Regions from separate parts of the Homo sapiens genome. Here region 2 is linked to region 1. The links come from fine-mapping of genetic effects on gene expression. A gene starts in region 1. The other region holds a variant in brackets. All regions are shown on one strand. Distances are from middle to middle.

What was found. PIP is the estimated chance that this variant, and not a neighbour inherited with it, causes the effect.
Region 2: its variant is fine-mapped to the expression of GRK5 in whole blood (TOPMed, PIP above 0.99).

What each region holds. Positions count from the first base shown.
Region 1 is chr10:119,202,948-119,214,606 of GRCh38, reverse strand. GRK5 (G protein-coupled receptor kinase 5) reads right to left here and starts at 7,036. Exons shown (of 16, transcript NM_005308.3): 1 at 6,638-7,036. The coding sequence starts at 6,689. GRK5-IT1 (GRK5 intronic transcript 1) reads right to left here and starts at 6,186. Exons shown (of 2, transcript NR_186528.1): 1 at 5,957-6,186; 2 at 1,903-3,126. It also overlaps the pseudogene RN7SL749P. RefSeq lists silencers at 6,610-6,659, 6,710-6,779, 6,990-7,819 and enhancers at 8,160-8,269, 8,290-8,339, 8,450-8,529.
Region 2 is chr10:119,245,351-119,257,009 of GRCh38, reverse strand. All of the region lies in intron 1 of GRK5 (G protein-coupled receptor kinase 5), which reads right to left. Among named protein-coding and RNA genes, the nearest start is that of GRK5-IT1, 43 kb to the right of the region's middle. The variant A/C (reference allele first, on the strand shown) is at 6,286.

The DNA.
Region 1 (11,659 bases):
TCGAAGTTGCAGTGAGCTGAGATGGCACCACTGCACTACAGACTGGGTGACAGCAAGACCCTGTCTCAAAAAACAAAACAAAACAAAAACCCCTCAGTGCCCCAGAAAATTAGCAGTTGTCTTCCAGATTCAGGTCTATCCCTCAAGTATAACCTTTTAATTATGCTTAAATCACATACTGGTCCCTCAGGCCATTGTCCAAATTCTAGGCACAGTAGAGTCAATGCAGTCTACACAGCTAAGGAGGTCACACCCCAGTCAGCCTCAGCTCTTCGGGGAAAAAAATCCAGTTCTGTTCACACCTAGTTGATCAGTTAAAAAACATCAAAAGAGACTGAGTGCAGTGGCTCATGCCTGTAATCCCAGCACTTTGAGAGGCCAAGGCAGGCAGATCACCTGAGGCCAGGAGTTTGAGACCAGCCTGGCCAACATGGCGAAACCCCGCCTCTACTAAAAATACAAAAATTAGCCAGGCTTGATGGTGGGCGCCTGTAATCCCAGCTACTCAGGAGGCTGAGGCAGGAGAATCGCTTGAACCTGGGAGGCAGAGGTTGCAGTGAGCCCAGACTGCGCCACTGCAGTCTAGCCTGCGCGACAGAGCAGACTCTGTCTCAAAACAAAACAAAAAACAAACAAAAAAACATGTAAAAAGAGAACGGCAGTGCCCAATTGCATCTTTTCAGTCATTTCACATTGTATTATCTGAGGCTGACACCCGAATGTCACCTCCGCACTGGGTCCTTCAACAACCAAATGCTGAACAAATAAATTTTACTCTTGTAAGATTTTCAGAAGCCTATTCAAGAATGGTTTCCTCAAAATGAGAAGCAGGGGTGGGGGAAGGGTCCAGTCAGGAAGTAAGGACTTTCTCTTTTAAAAGCAGCACAGTTTTCACAAAATGAAATGCTTCTTCCAGTTTTTGGATGGTAATAAAAGGAATGACATTATCTCTGCCCCCCCAAAATACATCTTTTCAATATTTAGAATATTTTTAAATAAAAATTTTCACTGAAATATAACAGGATATGTTTTAAAGTGGAAATCAACCCTATTATTTAAGGCCATAATACATTTTAATTTTTTATTTTTCTTTTTTGAAACAGAGTCTTACTCTGTCACCCAGTCCGGAGTACGGTGGTGCAATACTGGCTCACTGCAATCTCCACCTCCCAGGTTCAAGTGATTCTCCTGCCTCAGCTTTCCGAGTAGCTGGGATTACATGCGGGCACCACCACACCCCGCTGATTTTTGTATTTTTAGTAGAGACAGGATTTCACCATGTTGGCCAGGCTGATCTCAATCTCCTGACCTCAGGTGATCCGCCTGCCTCGGCCTCCCAAAGTGCTGGGATTACAGACATGAGCCACCATGCCCAGACCATTTTAGTCATTTAAAATCATGCCTTCATCCCCTTGTCTTCAATATTCTCTTCTATTCCATTCATTTATTTATTTATTTTTAGAGACAGGGTCTTGTGTGTTGCCCAGGCTGGAGGGCAGTGGCTATGCACAGATGCAGTCCCACTGCTGATCAGCATGGAGTTTTTACCTGTTCTGTTTCCCACCAAGCCAGTTCACCCCTCCTTGGGCAACTTGGTGGTCCCCACTCCCGAAAGGTCACCATATTGATGCCGAGCTTACTGCAGATACCCAATAGGCATAGTTCGCTCCAGACCAGTACTCCTGGGCTCAAATGATCTTCCTCAGCCTCCAGAGTAGCTGGGACCACAGGCTGTGCCACCGCACTCGGCTCCACCATTCTATTTTGATGTGAGAAATGGGTGCTGAGGGCTGTATGATTGAGGAAATTCCTAATTATCTTCTCAATGTGTCACCTGTTGGTAGTCACTTTCTGTTTTCTCAAGTTTCACCTCTGAGTTGCATGACCTATGACAATAATGCCTTTTGGTAACCAGAAGACTTTTTTATTTCAAAAATGTCTAGACATTATAATGCTTTATCTTGCACTCCAAACATATTGGCAACAAATATTAACTTTGAATATTGCCCACAGTCCTGGATAGTTTTATTTAAAACATCCCAGATATGGATTGAATAGCCCTTGGTAAAGGTGAATTTGGTTAAACATTGAGCCCGCTCCTGAAATTCACTTGGGCATTCTGGAAGTCTTCAGCCCAGATCCAAAGGGTATCATTTAGCAAGCCACTATAAGAGTTATAGCTTCTGAAGACATAATTTAAACAAGGATTAGTTTGGGCACTGGAAGAGTCAAGCACTTTGGAGTTTAGAATCTGACAAGCAGCAGCTAAGCTACTGAAAGATGAGAGCCTTGTGGGCATTTATCTGATGGTTTTTCAAACAGGCAGCCAGATTAACTACAATCATCGTTTGAAATCTTTAAGAAAGCAAAAGGCCTTCTGAAAACATTGCTTTTGGTTTCTCTACCTCCAAGTTGTCAGTACTGAAAAGGAAACTTTAAAAAAAAAAAAAGAAAGGCAGTTTGATTTAACGGCATTGTGTTTAACAGGCCAGGCTGCTTTTACACACACCGAGCTGCCTTAACCAGGATGAAAGCTGTCGCTTGGTAAGATTAACATTAAAATTGAAGGAGAAGCTTCAGGGTGGAGTACGTATGCCTCCACGTATGCCTTCACATAGCCATAAGAGGGCTTTGAGCTTCAGAGATGTTCCAACGTTCTAATAACCTAATTCACCATGTTTTGGTTTTATCACCATGAATTAGGGGTGCAAGGGAAAGAGGTCCAGGGCTTTCAGCCGTGCTGTGGAATGTTAAGTCTGTCCACGCCATAGCCTGCCCCACGCAGAGCTGGATGCTGGCTCACTCCTTCTTCCTGCCCTCCCTAACCTCTTCCAGGCCCCGAGGTGCTAATCTTGATGATCAGGAAGATCCAGCCAAGTCACAGAGTTACCTGAAAAAACGGTTCCTGTGTATTCTAATGTTTGGCAATTGTGACAAATGACAAAGTTGTTCCAGTCCTAACTTCTCAATTCCTGTGCTTGCTAGGGCCTCAGGAAAATGTGATCAATATTCCTTCAGGTATCTTTTTTGATCAGATATGGCTACTGCTGGCCTGTGAAGAAAGGAAAAGCGGGGCCTTGCAAAATTTTTTCTCACCACTGTTCACTCAGAAGAAAGGCAACAGATCTAGAAGATGAGAAAAACACAAAAACCTTTACTGCAACAATAAAACCAAAAAGAAACACACAAAAGGCACTCAGCAAACTCTCCTTCTCATTATTATTTCAACATTAGGTCGCCTGCCAATTTTCTGAGATTCTGAAATGTAAATAAATAGATAGAGTTAGTCTGGGCCTCTTTTTCATGAAATGCTTAATCACTTAGCTCATTCCCATAAATTGCCATGAATTCAGTCTCAACTTCTTTCTTTTTTTCCTTAAGCACTTTTTAGGAGAGCAATCTAAAGTTCCTAAGAGTGATCGAGTTGATGTTTTCTCATGAGACCCAGGACAAATAAACAGGCCCCAAAATACATTTCCGTGGTTCAAAATCTTGAACCCATACCTCTACCTTTTCTTATTTTAAAATAATTATCACAAGTGTTCATGAAGCTTGCTTGCTATATTTTCTAATTACTAACAATCCATCATTTTACTCTAATCCACTTACAGGCTTTCTATTTTATTGCTACATTAATGCTTTCCACTTTATATTATGTCTTATTACGGTAAGACTTTGAAGATACAGTGAATTTAGGAGCCATCTGTCTTTAATGCAAAACAAAAAGAAAAGATAGGTCCCAGTGTTACCCACCAACATGGACAACTACAAATTATTTTACAGCATTTTCAAAGTGTGCCTGTCTTTCTTCAAGGTCTGTTTCTCTATTGTTTGGGACAAATGTGACTTTTACTTGAAAGCCAAATTTTAAATTGCTTACGGTGTATTTTGTTAAGTGAACTAAATTAAATTTCACATTTGCCAATTATATTTCTCATCTGTAACCACTGACAAGAATCTTTAAGAAGTGTTTTTAAACCTTTTAAACAACTCAGATTTTTTTAATATACTGTTTTATATTAGATATTTCACTAAACTGACTGAAGATTTCATTTCTGAATATTTAGATAATATGGTTATTTGGAGAACTACTAAGTTTAGTAAAATAAATTCAAATATATGAGAACTGAGAAGAGAAACATAAATTGCTTTAATTTCTAAAAGTGTCCACACTAATTAGGATATATGGGCTCAAGTCTCTAATAAAGGCCCAGCCAAAAGAAACTGGAAGCACTTAAAATCATGGCTTTCCTCTAGGCATAAGAGAGAAAGAAGGGGAGAGATGCAAATTGTAAATGAGGTTTCCATTAAATGATTAATTTTTCTTGTTCACGTGTCAGTCTCTCCCTGCTTCCGCAGGCCCTCTCCATTTCCAAGGCATCATCAAGAGCTATTTTCTCACCATGAGATGACGACCAAACTCTCACAGCAAAATTGAAAAAGCCTTTAAAAGGAAAAAAAAAAGTGAAAGGCACATTCTTGAGCACTTTCAATCACTGTAATTCTGCCCCAATGGGAGTCGGTCACTCCACACAAGCTTCCAGCCTGCAGCTCTCTTCTCCAAGGCTCTGGGAAAAAAACCCAATTTGTTGGCCTAACGAACAACAATATCAGACAGTAAATTCACGTTGGTGAAAAAATACTGGGGAGAACAATTTGGAGGGGGCGGGTGGAATTGATATCACTTTGCCCACTCTAAGCAAAGCATTATAAAAGAAGCAACCAAATGCTCAGGGAAGAAAAAAAGCATCTATCAGGCAAACAAATATCTACAGCAGCAAATGTCGGGGGCAGATTCCCTGGGCAACAGGAGGAACCAGCGAAACTTGCAAGGCTCCAGTACCATCAGACCCAGTGATTTCCCAAGAAATAATTTCAGAATGGAGCGAGAGTGAAAACTTTCCCAGCCCCCGAATCCTGAGATACACAACCGTGTCCCACCACTAGGTGGCCAGCTGCAAAGGCTGAAAGAGGGGCGGGGGAGGTGGAGGGCTGTTTTCTCTGCTTCCTCCCTTTCAGGACCATTCCCCAACCCAGAGGAGAGCCTACCAGCACCCACCTAGATCCTGTCCACTAAAAATGTCAGGTTAGGAAAAAAAAAAAAAAAAAAAAAAAAAAACCACACACACACACACAGCTCAGGCCTTAGAACCTGAAGTCACCAAGTAACAAGCCTCTCCTAAAAATTTATTCCCACCAAAGCTAAGCAATGGGAGGGAGACTAACCTGAATATTTTAAACTCTGCTGGGGTTTTCAAAGCACTGCCTCCCTTCGGGGCTTCTGAAATAAACCTTCTTGCCCACTGGCTGCTTTAGAGTGACAAGTGACGACGAAAGTAAGACACGAATGCCGGGTTGAGTTGCTGAAACGCTGCCCACGGAAGGCTATGCATCACCTACCCCCACAGTGTGTAGGGAGCCACAAGGTGATGGAACGGGCTGAATAAACACGAATCGTTTTATTGCTGGCCAGAAATTCTTCCCTTCATTCATCAAAGTAGGTGAATGAAAATATTAAGCAGGTAAGACATTTTCATGGGCTGCTCACCGAGTATCCTTCTAAACTCAAGCCCTTACTCAGTCTGCCTTCTACCTTGTATCAAATAAAGCGTTCTCCCGTGAAAGGGAAAAACCTCTTCCCCTTTTATGAAAAAGGTCGCACACTAGAGCTCAAATCTTGACCAGAAAAAAAAAAGGAAAATATGCGACATAAATTCCAGGTATTCCTAAATACATATGTTTACATGGACACAACACAATCATTTCAGGAAGCACCCAAGTTTCTGCCTCCCCCCCCTTTTTTCTGTTTTTCATCAAAAGGAAGAGTCAAAATATGCGTTCTTAGGGTTTGACTCAGGATCTTACACACTCCATTTAGACAATATTTCCTGCCAGCTAAATGCAGGAAATCTAATGATTTGCATAGAAAACGTATCTAAAGCACCAGCACACTTACCTTTCTTTTCTTAACTGAGCCAAAATCTAACAATTTCAGTTATCACACTCCCAGAAAAGAAAAACCTGAAATACTGAATTATTTTCTAGGTGGTCTGTACAGCCATCCTTTGATAATTCTATGAAAAGGCTAATTCCTCAACATCTGACTTTGCCTTTAAAAGGCTTCCTTCCACACGACGGGATTTCCCTAAGAAACATCCCAGCGGATGGTTTCCAGCAATAGTCTATATCAACTCAGCCTGCGCAGGCAAAGACTTGGCTTCTGCTCATTCCACCCCCGCCCCTCGAACACACACACCAGTTCACACAGAACCATCCCGGGCCGACTTGAAACGCTATTTTATGTGCATGTTTGCTCGTCGCTCCCCGAATGAATGCTTTTCCAACTGACCTTTCAACAGCTGCCGAGATGGCACGCTCTGCAGGGCGAGCGCTGGAAACTAGGAGATATGTTAGCATCCAAATCCCTGCAACCTTCTCAGCCCAAGTCCAGATTCTCTGAGCCCCAAGGCAGGAACCCTGAAGGGTCTGCAGAGCCGCTCTCCGAAGTGTCCTGCTCGCGACCCACTCGCCGGCAGCGGGCATCCTGCACGGGCGCAGCCCCAGCCCGCACGCCACCCGACACCCGCACCCTGGCCCGCGGCGGACGCGCCGGGCACGTACCGGCCCTGCCTCTTACCTTCCCTGGCTTTCAGCAAGACCGTGTTGGCCACGATGTTTTCCAGCTCCATTGACAGTCGGCGGTCAGCAACGGAGCCGGCCGGCGGGGCTGTCAGCGCCTGGGGTGCTGCCGCTGCTGCTGCCGCTGCTCGGGCTGCCGCCGCTGCTGCCGGAGCCGGGGGAGCCAGCAGCCCGCCTTGCCTACCGCATTATTCCTGCTCTCAGCCCAAGAGTTTCCCCCTCTGCAAAGAGGAGCCGCCGCCGCCGCCGCCGCCGCCGCCGCTTCTTCCTCCCTCTGTGTCCCCCCTCCCCCCTCCCTCAACACGCTCCCCCCCACCCCCCACCCTCCGCGTGTCTCTGTCACTCCATTCTCCTCCCCTCCGGCTCCCTCGGATGCTTTAATGCCTCGGATGCTTCTGCCTCCCCTCAGTCCCTCCCGGGGGTGTGGTACTAGCAGGCTCGGGCGGCCGCACTGCGCAAGCGCCGGCCCAGGCGCGCCTCCTGCCTCGGTGCTCGCGGCGCGGGGCCTGCTGGGAGCTGGAGTCCTCCCGGCCGCGCGGCGCCGGGGCTGAGCTGGGCTGGCGCGCGGCTGTCGGAGCGAGGACCCGCCCCGGGACGGCACCGAAAGCGAAGGCGGGCACCGCCCGGCCGACAGGCGACTCAAAGGCGGCCCAGCCAAGCCGAAGTCCCCAGCACCCCCCCGCAGGCTCCCGCTTGCCCCCTTCCCGCCCCGTCGCCAGCCCGGAAAGCGGAGTGCACGGGCCCCGGTGACGGCGCGTGAAGCGCCGCGGCCCGGCAGGAGCCAGTGCGGGTCCCGAGCCGTGCTCGGAGTGGGAGGGCTGCCAGCTCGGCCGCGCGCCACAGCCCGCTTCCTCCGGTCCGCGCCAGGCCCGCGAGGGTCTGAGTCCCGGGTCAGTGACGCGCGCCCAGGGTCCCCGCACGCGGCGGCGGCCGGCCCGGCCTGGCCCCTGCCCAGCGTCTCCCACGCGGCGCCTCGGGCCGCGGACAAAGATGCACTTTGTTTCCTCGGAGGGCGCGAAGGGCTCTGCGGGTCGGCTGCGACCCGGCGCTGGCTGCCCGCGCTGCTCTCGGTGCGACCCGAGCGCCCCCCGCCGGCCGCGGTGCGCGGCGCGGGGTCTACGCGGACGGCGCCTGGGGCTCAGGGTCCAGCGTGGGAAGCTGCTTATTCTGTGAATAAACTGCCTTCCAGCACACCCGGCCAGCAAATCCACGAGCCTCCCTGCAGCCAAACCCAGCCAGATTAAGTAATAAAAACGCAGACGGAGTCGCCGGAGTCTCCGCCGTGGGGAGCGTTAATGAGTAACAGCCAGGCCAGCGCCAAGCCGGCGTGGGATTAACGTTTTTAAATTCCGGTCTTATTTATTTTGGGGCTCTTAGCTCCTTCCAGTGTTATGCTCAGAACATCAGACTCCAGGTCTGTGCTCAGCCCCGTTTCCTTGCTCCCTCCGCTCCGAAGGCCCCACTCCTGGAAATGGGCTGTCTTCGGTCACCCGGGATCTGCCACGAGTGTCCTACAGCTGGGGGCGGGGCAGGCAGGCCCCAAAGAACAATGAGGCCTTTGCCTCCTCTGCATCCTGCGGGCCGGATATCCGTTCAGAAGCCGACTCTGGGCCTTCTCTGTCCAGAAGGAGGAAACCCTCTGTCCCCAGGGCTGCCAGGAAGTCGCAGGGAGGTGCCGAGAGAAACAGAGAACAGTTATTATGCATTGGAGAATATAAAGAAATCAATAAACCTTCCAGGCCTTGGAAACTGGTCTGGTCACTGATTGTAACAACCCAAGATTACCTGCTTTCCTGGGGGAGTATACCCACCACCACCACTTCCTGGTGTCTAGACTTGGGTCAGTGAGTCTCCCAGGGCCTCATTTATCTTGTCTGCAAAATGGGGGCAACAACAGTTTACCTGTCAGAAGGCGGAGGGCTCAGCGGGTAACTTTTCAGGCACTTACCACTCCAGGAATTACTGTTCTAAGCAATCCAGGCTTGGTCTTTGCTACATATTCACGTGCCTAGAGCCCTAACCTTTAATGAAAGGATCTCTCTCAGACAGCGAGACCCCTAAAGCTGGCAGCTCCTAGAGCCCTCCACCAACCACGCTGGTCACTTGCTGGCAGCATAGGGCCTGATGAAGCCCGAAGTTTGTTTATTCGGCTAACATAAAAAAAAAAAGAAAGAAAATTTTTGAATGCCTTTAGATGGCTTATGCACCTTAACAATTTTCTTGGGCCGGGCGCGGTGGCTTACGCCTGTAATCCCAGCACTTTGGGAGGCCGAGGCGGGAGGATCACGAGGTCAGGAGATCGAGACCATCCTGGCTAACAGTGAAACCCTGTCTCTACTAAAAATACAAAAAAAAAATAGCCGGGCGTGGTGTTGGGCTCCTGTAGTCCCAGCTATTCAGGAGGCTGAGGCAGGAGAATGGCGTGAACCCGGGAGACGGAGGTTGCAATGAGCCGAGATCGCGCCACTGCACTCCAGCCTGGGCGACAGAGCGAGACTCCGAACCAAAAAAAAAAAAAAAAAAAAAAAACAATTTTCTCAAAGGTTGTTTTTGTTTGTTTTTTTGTTTTGTTTTGTTTTGAGACAGTTACTCTGTCACCCAGGCTGGAGTGCAGTGGCCCAATCTCGGCTCACTGCAACCTCGGCCTCCCAGGTTCAAATGATTCTTGTACTTCAGCCTCCCAAGTAGCTGGGATTACAGGTGTGTGCCACCATGACTGGCTAATTTTTGTATTTTGAGTAGAGACGGGGTTTCGCCATAATGGCCAGGCTGGTCTTGAACTCCTGGACTCAAGTGATCCAACCCGCCTCTGCCTCCCAAAGTGCTGGAATTACAGGCATAAGCCACCATGCCTGGCTCAAAGTTTCATGAGCATACAAATCACGGGGGATCTTGTTAAAATGCAGATTGCATTTGGATAGATCTGGGGTGGTTTCTGAGATGTTGCTCTTTCTAACAAACTCCAGGGCTCTGTCGATCCTCGTGGTCAGTAGACCACACTCAGAGTTGAAAAGCTTTCTAGTTTACCGTAACTCCCTATTGTCTTATACCCAGCCCAAGTCACTAGTGATTTTATTTATCTGGCCTGTATAGACATTTAAGTTTTCCATCCTGGGAACCCCTGCCTCTCCCTCTCATTTTACAGATGTGAAACAGACCCAAAGTAAGTGAGTTGGCATGGTCACTCAGCAAGTTAGTGTTAGACTATTTTTTTGTCCACTACAAGCTGTTGCATCCTGCCTACACAAATACATGGTTGTACATCAGGTTTTTGTGCCTCTATGAGGAAATTCAGACACTCCAATGCAAGAATGGAACAATAATGGCTAGCATTTACTCAACACCAACTGTGGGCCAGGCTCTTGTGGTCTTTTAAATGGATTATCTCCTTGAACACAATATCCAGATGAGGTAGGGAACACAGGCCTATTTTATAGATAAAGCACCAGGTTAAGAAAGGTTTTATAGGCCGGGCACGGTGGCTCACGCCTGTAATCCCAACACTTTGGGAGGCCAAGGCAGGCAGATCACCTGAGGTCAGGAGTTCGAGACCAGCCTAACATGGTAAAACCCCGTCTCTACTAAAAATACAAAAATTAGCTGGGTGTAGTGGCAGGTGCCTTGTAATCCCAGCTACTCGGGAGGCTGAGGTAGGAGAATGACTTGAACCCGGGAGCCAGAGGTTGCAGTGAGCCAAGATCATGCCATTGCACTCCAGCCTGGGCAACAGAGTGAGACTTTTTTTTTTTCCTCAAAAAAAAAGAAAGGTTTTATAATTTGTCCAGGGTCACATAAGTAATAAGTAGAAGACCCGGGATTTGAACCTGTCAGCCTGACTCAGAGTTGGTGCACTTAATTTCTGGCTTGCGCAAGCTAGCCAGCACAGCTTGGTAGTAACTGTTCTGTGTGGCTGCCGGGATGAACTTGTATTATAAGAAGGCAAAGCACCCAGTTGACTAAATCATTAAGATTTCAAGGGGTTTTCCATTTTCATCTATAATTCCACCATTATGGCTTTATTCCTTTCAATTAACTGCACTAACAACTCGTGGTCTTCTTGAAAAATGGGTTTGATTCAAGGAAGAGTAGGCTATTAAATATAAATAGCTAAGTAGGGAATCATTGACAGCCAGCTGAGAGCAAGAAGGGAAATCCAAATGGAGGAGTGGGGGTGAGGATGGAGGGATGGGAATATGTCAAAGACAGCCAGCTTCAGACTCCACTCAGGAGCAGCTGAGCCAAAAATGCAAAAGAAGTCAGATGCAGTGGCTCATGCCTACAATCCCAGCACTTTTAGAGGCTAAAGCAAGGGTGCAGGGGATGGGGGGGTGGAGATCGCTTGAGCCCAGGAGTTCGAGACCAACCTAGGCAACATAGCGAGACCCTGTCTCTACGAAATAAACCTAAAAATTAGCCAGGTATGGTGGCACTGAGCTATGATCGCCCCACTGCACTCCAGCTTGGGTAACAGAGTAAGACTGTCTCTAAAAAATAAAAAAGCAAAAGAAACAGGGAACCTTCAAATTCTTCTCTCAGCACCTGTATCTGCCATGAATAAAGCTGCTGGGTCAGAGTTCTTGTAAATAGAAGTCTACTATGCTGGAAAGCCACAAACCTATCGGCCTTCTAAAATATAGATTCCTTTTGCCTGAATAATCAAATTGGCTTTCTGAATAGTCCAGGAACTGGAGTTTCCATTCCTTTCCTTGACTCAAAGCTTTTTAATCCTCAGGAAGCAGCTGCAGATAGAGCTTCCATTCTCTCATTTATCCTCTTCTCCTTCAGAGTTTACCTTTCTGTGTCCAGCCCTGCAGGGAGTTCAAGGCAATTTCCCAGGGAGCTCGCCACTGGGAAGGAAAACACACCGGATGCAAACAACCTCCATACAATGGAATAAGGGCCATTGTGGAGACACACACAAAGGACTTTGCAAACGGGAAGAAGTGATTTCAGGCACCAAAAGAGGAGAAATGTGAGCTGAAAGCAAATCTGGAGGCTTGAGGTTTCCAGTTAACATTTC
Region 2 (11,659 bases), 42 kb before region 1:
AATTAACCAGATACAAAAAGCCACATATTGTATTATTTCATTTACGTGAAATGTCCACAATAGATAAATCCAGAGACAACCCAGATTGGCGGTTGCCAGGGACCGTGGTAGGGGCAAGTGGGAAGTGATCGCTATTAGATCCAGGGTTTCTTTTTGGGGTGATGGTGATGAAAGTGTTTTGGAATTAGATAGTGGTGATGGTTGCACAACATTGTGAATGTACAAAGACTATTAAATTTACACTTTAAAGTGGAGAATATTATGGTACGTGAATTATCTCTCAATAAAAAGAGGGGGGATGTTCCAAAGCAAAATATTCATTACCAGAGACACAGTCACGACCTCAGAGATAGAATAAAGAGGCGACGGGTGAGGGGTGGGGTGCAATAGGGGTGAAGGGTGGGGTGCGATAGAGGTGAGGGGTGGGGTGCTGTGGCCCAGGGCCTCCCCTTCCCACTCCATGTACCCAGAGAGCAGCAGGAAATACTGTGTACAGGAGGCAGCAGGGCCTGGTTGTTACTCAGCTGTGTGAGCTCCAACAAGTTTCCTACATTCTCTGAACCCCAAGGAGCCTTTCTGCAAAGAGAAGAGTAGGCCTAGAGGATGGAGGATGAGGGACCAGGGGACAAGAAGTGGCTGGCGACTACCGGAGCCAGGACTCCAGACTCCCACCTGCTGGTTTCACGCCCCCTCCCAAGCTCCCAGGCTGGTGCTGTGAGGTGTGTGGGGGGGTCCGCCCAGAGGGAAAGGCAAATCTGGCCGGGAATGCAGAGTCTCCACAGGAGTCGAGGCCACTGAAGGGCAGCCCTGCAGGCAGCGAGAGGGTGGCTCTGGGAGGCTTTCCTGGGACAGTGTGCAGTGGAGGCTGGGCCAAGACTGGGATCCTCTCCTGACAGAGGACTGTCAATACCAAGTCTCGGTGTCTTCTATTTGCAAAGGGTTTCAAACTGGTTTGCTTGAATAACTATTTTACACAATGGTTGCAATAACTTCACAGTCATATCCAAGTTACTTACTAGGAAATGGAAGTTCAGCAAAGTGAGAGACTATATAGCCCAAGCCAGCTCCTGTGTCATTCCTCCAAGAAGCCTTCCCTGGCTGCCTCAAGTGGTTGTTCCCTGGGCCCAGAGCCCTCCCTGCATCCCAGCTTCTACAACCCGGTCAGCTCTCGAGGGCAAAGCCAGGCCTTGCTCGTCTGTGTACCTACGACTGCTAGCACAATCCATGATAAATGATGGCTCGAAGCAAGAGGGCTAACTCACCACCTTGTCCCTCAAGGAGCCCGTGTCTGGGAGAATGGGCAGAAAACACACCAGGACAGGGGGCAGCAGGCATGGCGGGAACGGCCAGAGGCTCTGGAGTCTGGTGAGGCTGAAGTCCCACCTTTACCCTGACCTTGCGCAGCCACAGAGCTCTCTGAGTCTCAGTGCCTGCTCCATGACTCTGTGATAATGAGCCAGCGGTGTTAGTACAAAGTGAGCATCTGGGGAAGAGTCCACGCCAGTGAAAATCACACAAGAGCCTTTCCAAAACCACCACTCAGTCCAAACAGAAAGAGCCTCTAAGTGCAGAGGGACTCAGAAGGGAGAGGTCATTGGAGTTAGGTGAAGTCGATGTGACAAAGCTTCCTGGAAGGGGTGTCCTGTGTGTCAGCTTCCATCCTGCTGGTGACAAAGGCCCCTGCTATCTTGTGTTCCAAGTGGAAAGAGCCTGGGTCCCTGATACCCCTGAGAATAAGAGATCCACCTCTGGCCATAGCTGCTGTCCCTCCAGAAGCCTGTGCCACACCCCTCCCTGGATCCTATCTCTCCCAGCAGCTCTCTCTCCTCCCATCAGGGAAGTCAAGGCCACCTCCGGGCTTCCAAATGGCTCATCTCCTGGCCTCCTCCCACCTGACGACCTTACCTGCGCATACATACACAGAGCTTCCTGCTCTACTCTGTTTTTCCTTCTTTTTTTTTTTTTTTTTTTGAGACTGAGTCTTGCTCTGTCGCCCAGGCTGGAGTGCAATGGCGCAATCTCGGCTTCCTGGGTTAAAGCAATTCTCCTGCTTAAGCCTCCTGAGTAGCTGGGATTACAGGCACCTGCCAACATGCCCAGCTAACTTTTGCATTTTTAGTAGAGATGGGGTTTCACCACATTGGCCAGGCTGGTCTCGAACTCCTGACCTCAGGTGATCCATCCGTCTCAGCCTCCCAAAGTGCTGAGATTACAGGCGTGAGCCACCGTGCCCGGCCTGTTTTTCCATTTTTTTCTTACAAAATACATCATACATCCCAAGGTCCCTGTTTTGATATGTCTCTGCCTGTGAATCCCACCTCCTCCTGGAGAAATAGTCCAGAGTCATCCACACTCAGATTGCTGGGCTGGGCACCTGACCCAGGCCACAGAGCTGAAATGACATCCTCCGTGCCCCAGCCATCAACTCCCACCCCTTCTCCCTCCCCATACTGGCCAGAAATAAGATAGCCACACCCGCTACAAATCCCATGCACGGTTTCTTGTTCCAAGCTGCCTTTCCCATTAGGCTGTAAGCCCCCTGAGCACAAGGACCAGGTCTGCCTGTTCCCCAGTAAATCCCCAGAGTTGTTGAATGAATAAGAGCAGAGTACAAAAAAAAAAATCTAAAACTTATCACAATACACTGTCTAAAAACTAAAGTAGGGCAGAACAGAACAGACCAAACCCTTCTCTGAGGATCAAGAGACAGGATTTGAGTTCTAGCTGTGCAACCCTGGGAGGGTCATAGGTCCTCTCTGGCCCTCAGTTTCCTCCTCCTTTAAAACAAGCCACTGGGCCAAGATGACCTTTCAGGCCCCCTACAACTCAAGTACTGGATGATTCTGAAAGCATTTTTCAAAGGCGCTTAGAATTACAAGAGTCCCACTTTAGGGGACAGTCACCGGCCCAGCAGGCCTCATGTGTGGCTCATCTTTCCCCGCTGTGGTGTGGTTTGGTTTAAAGGCAAAGTCAGAGGAGACACATCAGCCCTGTTGACTAAAGCGTAATATTTTCCATCAGGTGTCACGGCTTTCTGTACTTTCTCCTTTTCCCCTGGGGAATCTCAAAAAGAGTCCATGTGAACATCTGAAAATAAGTGTGCCTCATGAAAAAGCATGCACGCACACACATGTGTACACACACACACACACACACACACACCCCTGGGGCAAAGAACCACCAGGAACCCAAACACTAAACAACCTCCAGCCCCCCACCCCAGGCAAAGCTCCAGAAGCCGTATCTGGGAGACACTGCATTTTTCTGGAATTGTGTCATCATTCACAACAAAGTTCACTCTCAGGCCTTGCATCCACCCCGGAGCTGGGCTGGGCTGCCCAGAGCCACAGTGAAAAAAGAGCTGGCCACTCACACCATTTTTATGGTGAGCCGTGACCTCCAAACGAGCTGGGTGTGCGCCGGGCTGAAGCCCTGGTTCCAGCCGTGGTGGGGCAGCATCCCGCAAGCATATCACAGCACCCTAAGCTCCAGGGCTTAGACCCAGGCAAGAGGCATGAAAAATAGAGCAGCTACACGGAGGAGCCTAAGCTTCTGATTTAAATATAAAAGGAACGGAGGGCAGGGGTGGTGGGGAGGCTGGCTTGTCCCTCTTCTCCACAGGCCTGGCAGGATCCAGGGGGCTGTGGAGATCACTGAGTTAGGAGAAGACATCAGTGACCTGATGTAATTCCTTTTCTAATGCAATGCTGAACTGGAGATAGTTCACAGATGCTCCAATCTTCCTTGCTTGTCCTTCAAATTTCGGACTCTATCAAGGGCCTCTGTAATCTCAACAGACCCTCAGATGTGAGCTCAAGGGGGCACTGGGTGGTGTAGACACCCTCTGTCAAACCTGTGCTGTCACCACTGAGCCACCAACTCTCCCTCATCAGCAGATTAGTACAGCAGGGTTGAAACCAGCCTTGAGCACTAAGGGGGCGTATCAGGAAAACCAGGGCACTGTCCCCTCTCCAGTGTGGCTAGGGGATCCTCTGTAGTCCACACTGGCCATGACCCTCACCCTTCAGGGTCCATCATTTTCCCTAAGACCACCTGGCCTTTGGAACACTTGGTTTATTGGCCCCAGGGGAGGAGGGTGACTGACCTGATACATCTGGGCAAGTTCCAAAGTTCAAAGTTTCAACCATGGCCTCATCTCTCAATTTGTTCAGGGAAGAAAAATGCTATTTATTGAGGTATCCTCTACGACCCATAAAAATGAGGCAAAAGCCACAGAGTGACCCCAAGCCCTTCACAGACACTTGCCCCCAAATCAGGAACTCAGGACTCAAAGCAAATTTAGGAAGGCCACATTTCCGTCTCTTAACAGCACCATCTTTTTCTACAAATCAGGAGAAAAATAGAAAGGTAGACTGTTCTAGTTGGAAGTCAGCTTTACGAGAAACATGAGGACCAGAAGGAAGACACTATTTGCACAAGATCGTGCTGCTACCCGGGGTAGAACTAAAACCATGCCCAGGTCTCGAGACACCCGGTCCAGTGCCCTTCCCCGCCTCTCCAGCGTAGCCCTCTGCACCCAGCTCAGGGTTCTGGCCCATCCACACGGCCCAGAGAGAGACACTTCTCCCCTACCCCCAGCCCTGGGAAAGGGCTGCACGCTGGCCCCTAGGATCCAGCTGAAAGCCTCTCCTGGCAACTTCACCCTGTCTCTGCCCTTCAGGTTCCAAAAGGAGAAACAAGACAGCTCTCTGCCCGTCGCAGGCCTGGGCTGCCCAGAGGTCACAGCACAGTGATCCATCAACTGTCAACTCCACCAGGACCTGTAGCTGGGGCTGGCAAGCTCACCCCACCCAGATGGTTTCCCTTTGCATGGCTGTCTCCAGGATGGTCCTGCTACTCACACAGCTGCCCCTATCGGCACGAGCACGCCACGCAGGCCAGCAGCAAGAGGGATGGTCAGGGAGAGTGAAGACATATGTCTGACTTAGACTTCAGTCACCTGAGCCAGAATTGTACTTGGCACATCTGTCCAGATGCAGCAATATCTCAAGGCAGGGAGGGTGGGATGAAAAGAAGAAAATCAAGTTCTAATCCTTAGTGGAAGGGCTGAGGATTGGATATGCACAGGGCGGAGAAGCAGCTTGCAAATTCTAGACCACCAAAATCGAGGCGAGTGGTTCTCAACCAGGAGCAATTTTACCCCCAAGAGGACATTTGACAAAGTCTGGAGACATTTTTGGTTGTCATAACTATGAAGCTAAAGGCCACAGATGCTGTTAAACATCATCCAACGCACAGGCCGGCCCCCATGACAAAGAATTATCCAGCCCCAGATGGCAACGGTGTCAAGGTTGACAAACCCTGCTTTAGGTGTGTAGATGCTAGAAGGTTTTTTGTTTTATTTTCTTTCCCCCAGACATCTTTCATCATCGCTTTAGAAGACAGCAAGAAAATAACGTGGGAGTATGACAATTACAACTCCAGATAAATGTTCGCAGCCTGTCAGAATGGAAGCCTGGGCTTCTTCCTCTGTTCCAGTGACTCAGTAACTGAAGCTGCGGAGAGGAAGGCCAAGGCTTCGGGAGACAGCTCCGAGTAAAGACAGGCTTAAGACAAAGTTCTGAGTATGTTCTTGAAAAGCTCAGGCATCACAGAAAGGCATTGGTGATGCCATAAACATCCAGCTTGTGCTGCCTTTGAAATCTGATTGAACAAGAAATACTCTTACAGAGCCTTTTGGTTATAGTCTGCTTTTTGTTTTAACATGGTTTTAATCAGGAAATCATGGCTCTTTGTTCCTTCAGGAAATTCTGTCAAATGGTTCACATTCCTTGTAAAGAACTACTGTCTATGCAAATTAAGATTCAGAGTTTTAAATTCAAACAGTTTGGGAGCAAGCAGCGTTTTGTTGTTGTTTCTTAATGTCAACGTGAGAAAAAAAAAAAGTGAGGGGAGGAAAGAATGCAAATGTTCGTCATTGAAAACACACACAAAACCAGAAACATTTTCCCCTCATGCACAAGGTCAGGAGTCTCTGGGTGAATGAAGCTGCTTCATGTTTTGCAGACGCGCTGATGGAACATGGGAAATACTGTTGCAAAGGCCCTCGATAGGAGAGCGTGGAGATGCCTAGAAATAGACATATCACCCAACAACGGGTTATCTATGAGAACTGCATTGTTCTCAGTGTGACTGGGCAGCACAGGCTATGGCATCGGGATATGAAAAATATAGTAACATACTCTATTACACATCCTCTTTACTCAGAGCAAGAGGAGATAAACACAGGTCATGACTAAGCCACTTTCTCCAACGTTCACTTCC[A/C]ATTTTGTGTGTAGCTCTGATCCAGTCATCAAGGTGCTGACTTAAGGAAAAAGTGTGGATGGAATATGTGGTGTAGGGCCAGGCACAGTGGCTCATGCCTGTAATCCCAGCACTTTGGGAGGCCGAGGCAGTAGGATCATTTGAGTCCAGGAGTTCAAGACCTGGGCAACAAAGTGAGACCTTGACTGTACAAAAAAAAAAAAAAAATTTAAATGAGGCTGTAGGATGCCTGGAGCCTGGGAGATCAAGGTTGTAATAGGTTGTGATGACGCCACTGCACTCCAGCCTGGGTGACAGAGCGAGACCCTGCCTCAAATAAAAGAAAAAGAAAAAGTTAAAGAAAATGACTATCTCTGACGTTGCCTTATCCTTCCTGGAATTAGGGAGAATGGCAAAGAAAGTTGTATGAAGGCCCCCACAACTGAGTTCAAACCCTACATCCACAAGTAGCTTCAGGACCTGGAGCAGGTGATTTAATTTCTCTGAGCCCCTCAGTTTCTTCATCTGTAAAATGAAAATTTACAGGTCAAAGGCTTAACACAGAAGAGACTCTCACTCAACAAACAATGAGCATGTTCTGACTGAAGGCTTTCCAGGGAGATTCACCCCACAGGTCTGGGCACAGCACTCCTAGACTCTGAAGAGCCTCTGTGGAGGTCAGAGGCTCTTTGAGGATTCAGTGTTCTTTTCTAAGCCCTAGTCCCTATCCAGAGTTGCCAAGAATGCGGGAAAGCAGAGACTCCACTGTTGGGAGCATGACTTAGTGGGGCCATTCTGGAAGGCAATTTGTTAAGACCCTTCATCTTTAAGCCCACTGCCAGGTATCTGTGACATCCTTGCACACGTGCACAAAGAGTTATGCACTTACAATAACAATGACACAGTAATAGTAAACTTTTTTGAGCATTTAAAAAGTTCAAAGTCAGCTGGACGCAGTGGCTCACGCCTATAATCCCAGCATTTTGGGAGGCCGAGGTAGGCAGATCACCTGAGGTCAGGAGTTCAAGACCAGCCTGGCCAACATGATGAAACCCCATCTCTACTAAAAATATTTAAAAAATTAGATGGGCATGGTGGAGCGCACCTGTAGTCCCAGCTACTTAGGAGGCTGAGACAAGAGAATTGCTTGAACCTGGGAGATGGAGATTGCAGTGAGCCGAGATCGCGCCATTGCACTCCAGCCTGGGCAACAGAGTGAGACTCCATCTCAAATAAGTAAAATAAAATAAAATAAAATGTTTAAAGTGTTTACACACAATTCATACATATTTGATACATGATATACCTGGTGTGTCACATAATATTTATTTGATATATGTACTAAGTAACTTAGATAAGCCTACAAAGTAGGTATTCTACATATGATATTTATTTGATATATATATTAAGTCACTTCACCCTACAAGGTAGGTATTATTAGTATCTCCTTTTTGTTTTTCGTTTTTTGTTTTTTGAGACGAAGTTTCGCTCTTGTTGCCCAGGCTGGAGCACAATGGCACGATCTCGGCTCACTGCAACCTCCGCTTCCTGGGTTCAAGTTATTCTCCTGTCTCAGCCTCCTGAGTAGCTGGGATTACAGGCACCCGCCACCATGCCCGGCTAATTTTTTTGTATATTTAGTAAAGACGGGGTTTCACCATGTTGACCAGGCTGGTCTTGAACTTCTGACCTCAGGTGATCCACCCACCTCAGCCTCCCAAAATGCTGGGATTACAGGCATGAGCCACCGCGCCCAGCTAGTATCTCCATTTTAAAGAAAAGAAAGTTGAGACATGGAGAGATTAGTAACTTGCCCTAGGTCAGAGGTCGGCAAATGTTTTCTGTAAAAGGCCAGATGGTAAATATTCTAGGTGGGCCATATGGTCTCTGTCACAACTACTCAATTCTGTGGCATGAAAAAAGCCCTAGATAATAGATCCACAAATGAGCATGCTGTTCAACAAAACAAGTTAATGGACACTGAATTTTGAATTTCACACCGTTTTCATATATTAGGAAATACTTACCTTTTTTTTTTAACCATTTAAAAATGAAAAAATCAGTCTTGCCTCACAGGCCCTACAGAAACACAGCGGGGTGGATTTGCCATGGAGGCTATAGCTTGCCACCCCCTGCCCTAGGTCACTCATCTAGTCTAAGTCCTGTTTCAAAGCCAGGCAGTCTAAGCTCCACAAGGCACATTCATAATCTCATGCTATCATTGCTTCATTTAGTATCAAAAAGAAAGGGTGAGGAAATGGCTCAATAAATTAGGAACAGAATTCATATTATGGAACGCCCTGCAGGATTAAAAAAATGTCATCTGCACATGGGCCAGTGTGAAGGAACTCTGGATGTGTAAGTGAAAAAAGCAAGCTGTACATCAACACACACATCATGACCCTCTTTTTATGGATCAAAAATAACGACAACAGCCAGCGATAGTGGCTCACTTCTATAATCCTAGCACTTTGGGAGGCAGAGGCAGGAGGATTGCTTGAGCCCAGGAGTTTGAGACCAGCCTGGGCAACATGGCAAGACCCTTTCTCCACACAAAAATTTAAAAATTGGCTGGGTGTGGTGGTACATGCCTATAGTCCCAGCTCCTTCAGAGGCCAAGGTGGGAGGATTGCTAGAGTCCAGGAGGTTGAGGCTGCAGTGAGCTATGATCACACCAGTGCACTCCAGCCTGAGACCCTGTCTCAAAAGAAATTAAAATAAAAATAAAGCTAATTACGTATTTGTGTGCATATGGATATAAACACTTGTTCACTCACATATAAACAGTCAGCATTTAGAAAGATGTCTGGAAAGATTATCACCAAATGTCAGCAGCCAGGCAGGGTGGGGGGGACTTTCATGATTGTCTGTATATATATGTGCCCCTATAATTTGAAACTTTTACATCCCAAATGCATCCTTCTATTATGTGTATCATAAAAGAAAATGATTGAGGTACTAGTTACAAGTCACCACTTGCCAACACACTTTGAGCTCTCTGAGCAGTTTCCATGTGGCCCCCTCTAAACAAAAGCTGGTTACAATTAATTATGGCAGGACAAAGACATTTTTTCCAGAGGGCAAAACAAACAAACAAACAAAGGTGGCATAAACTATAGTAAATAAACATAGCTGTGTCTCTTTGACCATCACCAGTGATTTTGTTTTAATTGCTATTAAACATGTGCATGACCTAACCTTCTCCAGACACTATTAACCTCCAACCCCAGGATGTCGGTTGTAAACAAAGCCTTCAAGGGTTTCATCTGGTGTGTGATAGTCCAGGCATAGCTTTCCTGACTACATAAACTTTAATTTATAAAGTTATTTTGGTTTGCTCCACTGGCATGAACATAGCTGAAGGGGGAGTCATCGACTGTGGAAATGAGATTTCCCTCAGTGCCAATTTTAAATCCAGCCTCCAGGTCATCGTATTTTTCTGGATGCTTCTCACAGTCACATTTTTTGTTTGTTTGTTTTACATGAAAGAGCACATTCCCTTTCCCCAAGTCAGGTTTACCATTTTCCATTGCTCTTATTAAACGTATCTTATTCTAATGGAATGTTCTCAGAGTTTCCGCCCTCCGCTGGCCTGGGTAAGAGAGGTCTGGAGTTGGACGCCCTAGGACGGACAGTCACTCAGATGCCGAGCTCCAGGCCATTGCCAAGCACCACCTCATCACAACTGCAGAAAGCAACGGGGTACAAAATCCCATCCTCGGGCCAGGGCACGGATCTGACCCCGGCATCCCAGATTCCTTCTCAGATCTGGATAGAACCCAAGAGGCTCTCAGCGAGGCCCTCTGTGCCAGTTAAAACAGCAGCTGGCTGAGGCAGTGTCTGAAGGTGCGGAAATGCAAATCCACGAGGAGACCAGCCCTTCTCAGGTGACATTCCCATCAGAGCTGTGAGGGCCTTCTGTTGACCAAACAGTGAAGGTTTTCAACCCCAAGCAACACCTGCTTTGGAAGGTGCAGGAGGGAGCTTTAAACCTCAACTAGGTATGCCATGCTAATCCCAAATTCGTGACATAATTGTACGCTCTGCCACACAATTCTAGCCGATGTCTGAACTGGGCCATCTCATTGTGGCCTCCAGACACCACTTCTTGAATGTGGCCATGACCAACATCCTTGGCAGATTAACTGGTGATAGGACATTACTTAACCCTTAACCCAAGGCAATCTTAATTCCTCTTTTGTGATGGGATCAATTTTATGTTTTCCAAATGCTTCCCATTACATCAGGAACAAAAAATAAACTATTATAAAATTTACATGATTTGGTATACACATACAGTCAGCCCTCCCTATCCACAGGTTCCACATCCATGGATTCAACCACCCTCCAACTGAAAACTCTTGAGGGGGAAAAAAAAAGCCGTCTGTACTGAACACATATAGACTTTTTTCTTGTCATTATTCCCTGAACAACACAGTATAACAACTATTACACAGCATTTACATTGTATGAGGTATTATAAGTAATCCAGAGATTAGAGTTTGGATGATGATGTGCATAAGTTATATGTGAATACTATGTCACTTTATATCAGGGACTTGAGCATCCATGGATTTAGTATATAAGGGGGGACCTGGAACCAATGACCAAAGGATACTAAGGGATAACTGTATATTTTTATTGTGATTTTAAAAAACACAACATGAGATCTGTTCTCTTAACAAATTTATCTTTTTTTCTTTTTTTTTTTTTTTTTTTTTTTTTTGAGATGGAGTCTCGCTCTGTCACCCAGGCTGGAGGGCAGTAGCATGATCTCGGCTCACTGCAGGCTCTGCCTCCCGGGTTCACGCCATTCTCCTGCCTCAGCCTCCCGAGTAGCTGGGACTACAGGCACCCGCCACCATGCCCAGCTAACTTTTTTGTATTTTTTTAGTAGAGACGGGGTTTCATCATGTTAGCCAGGATGGTCTCAATCTCCTGACCTCGTGATCCGCCCGCCTCGGCCTCCCAAAGTGCTGGGATTACAGGCGTGAGCCACCGCGCCCGGCCTTAACAAATTTTTAAGTGCACAGTATGATTAACTATAAGCACAATGTTATACAGCAGACCTCTCAAACTTTCTCATCTTGTATATCAGAAACTTTATACCCACTGAGCAACAATTCTCCATTTCCCTCTCCCCTGGCAACCACCATTCTCTTATGAGTTTGACTACTATAAATTTCTCATATGAATGGAATTGTGCATTATTTGTTCTTCTGTGACTAGCTTATTTTACTTACGATAATGTCCTACAAGTTCATACATGTTGTGGCTATGGCAGGATTTCCTTTTTAATAAGGCTGGATAGTATTCCATTGCACGAACACGCCACAGTTTTTTCATTTCATTCATTTACCTATAGACTTTGAGGTTGTTTCCACCTCTCGGCTAT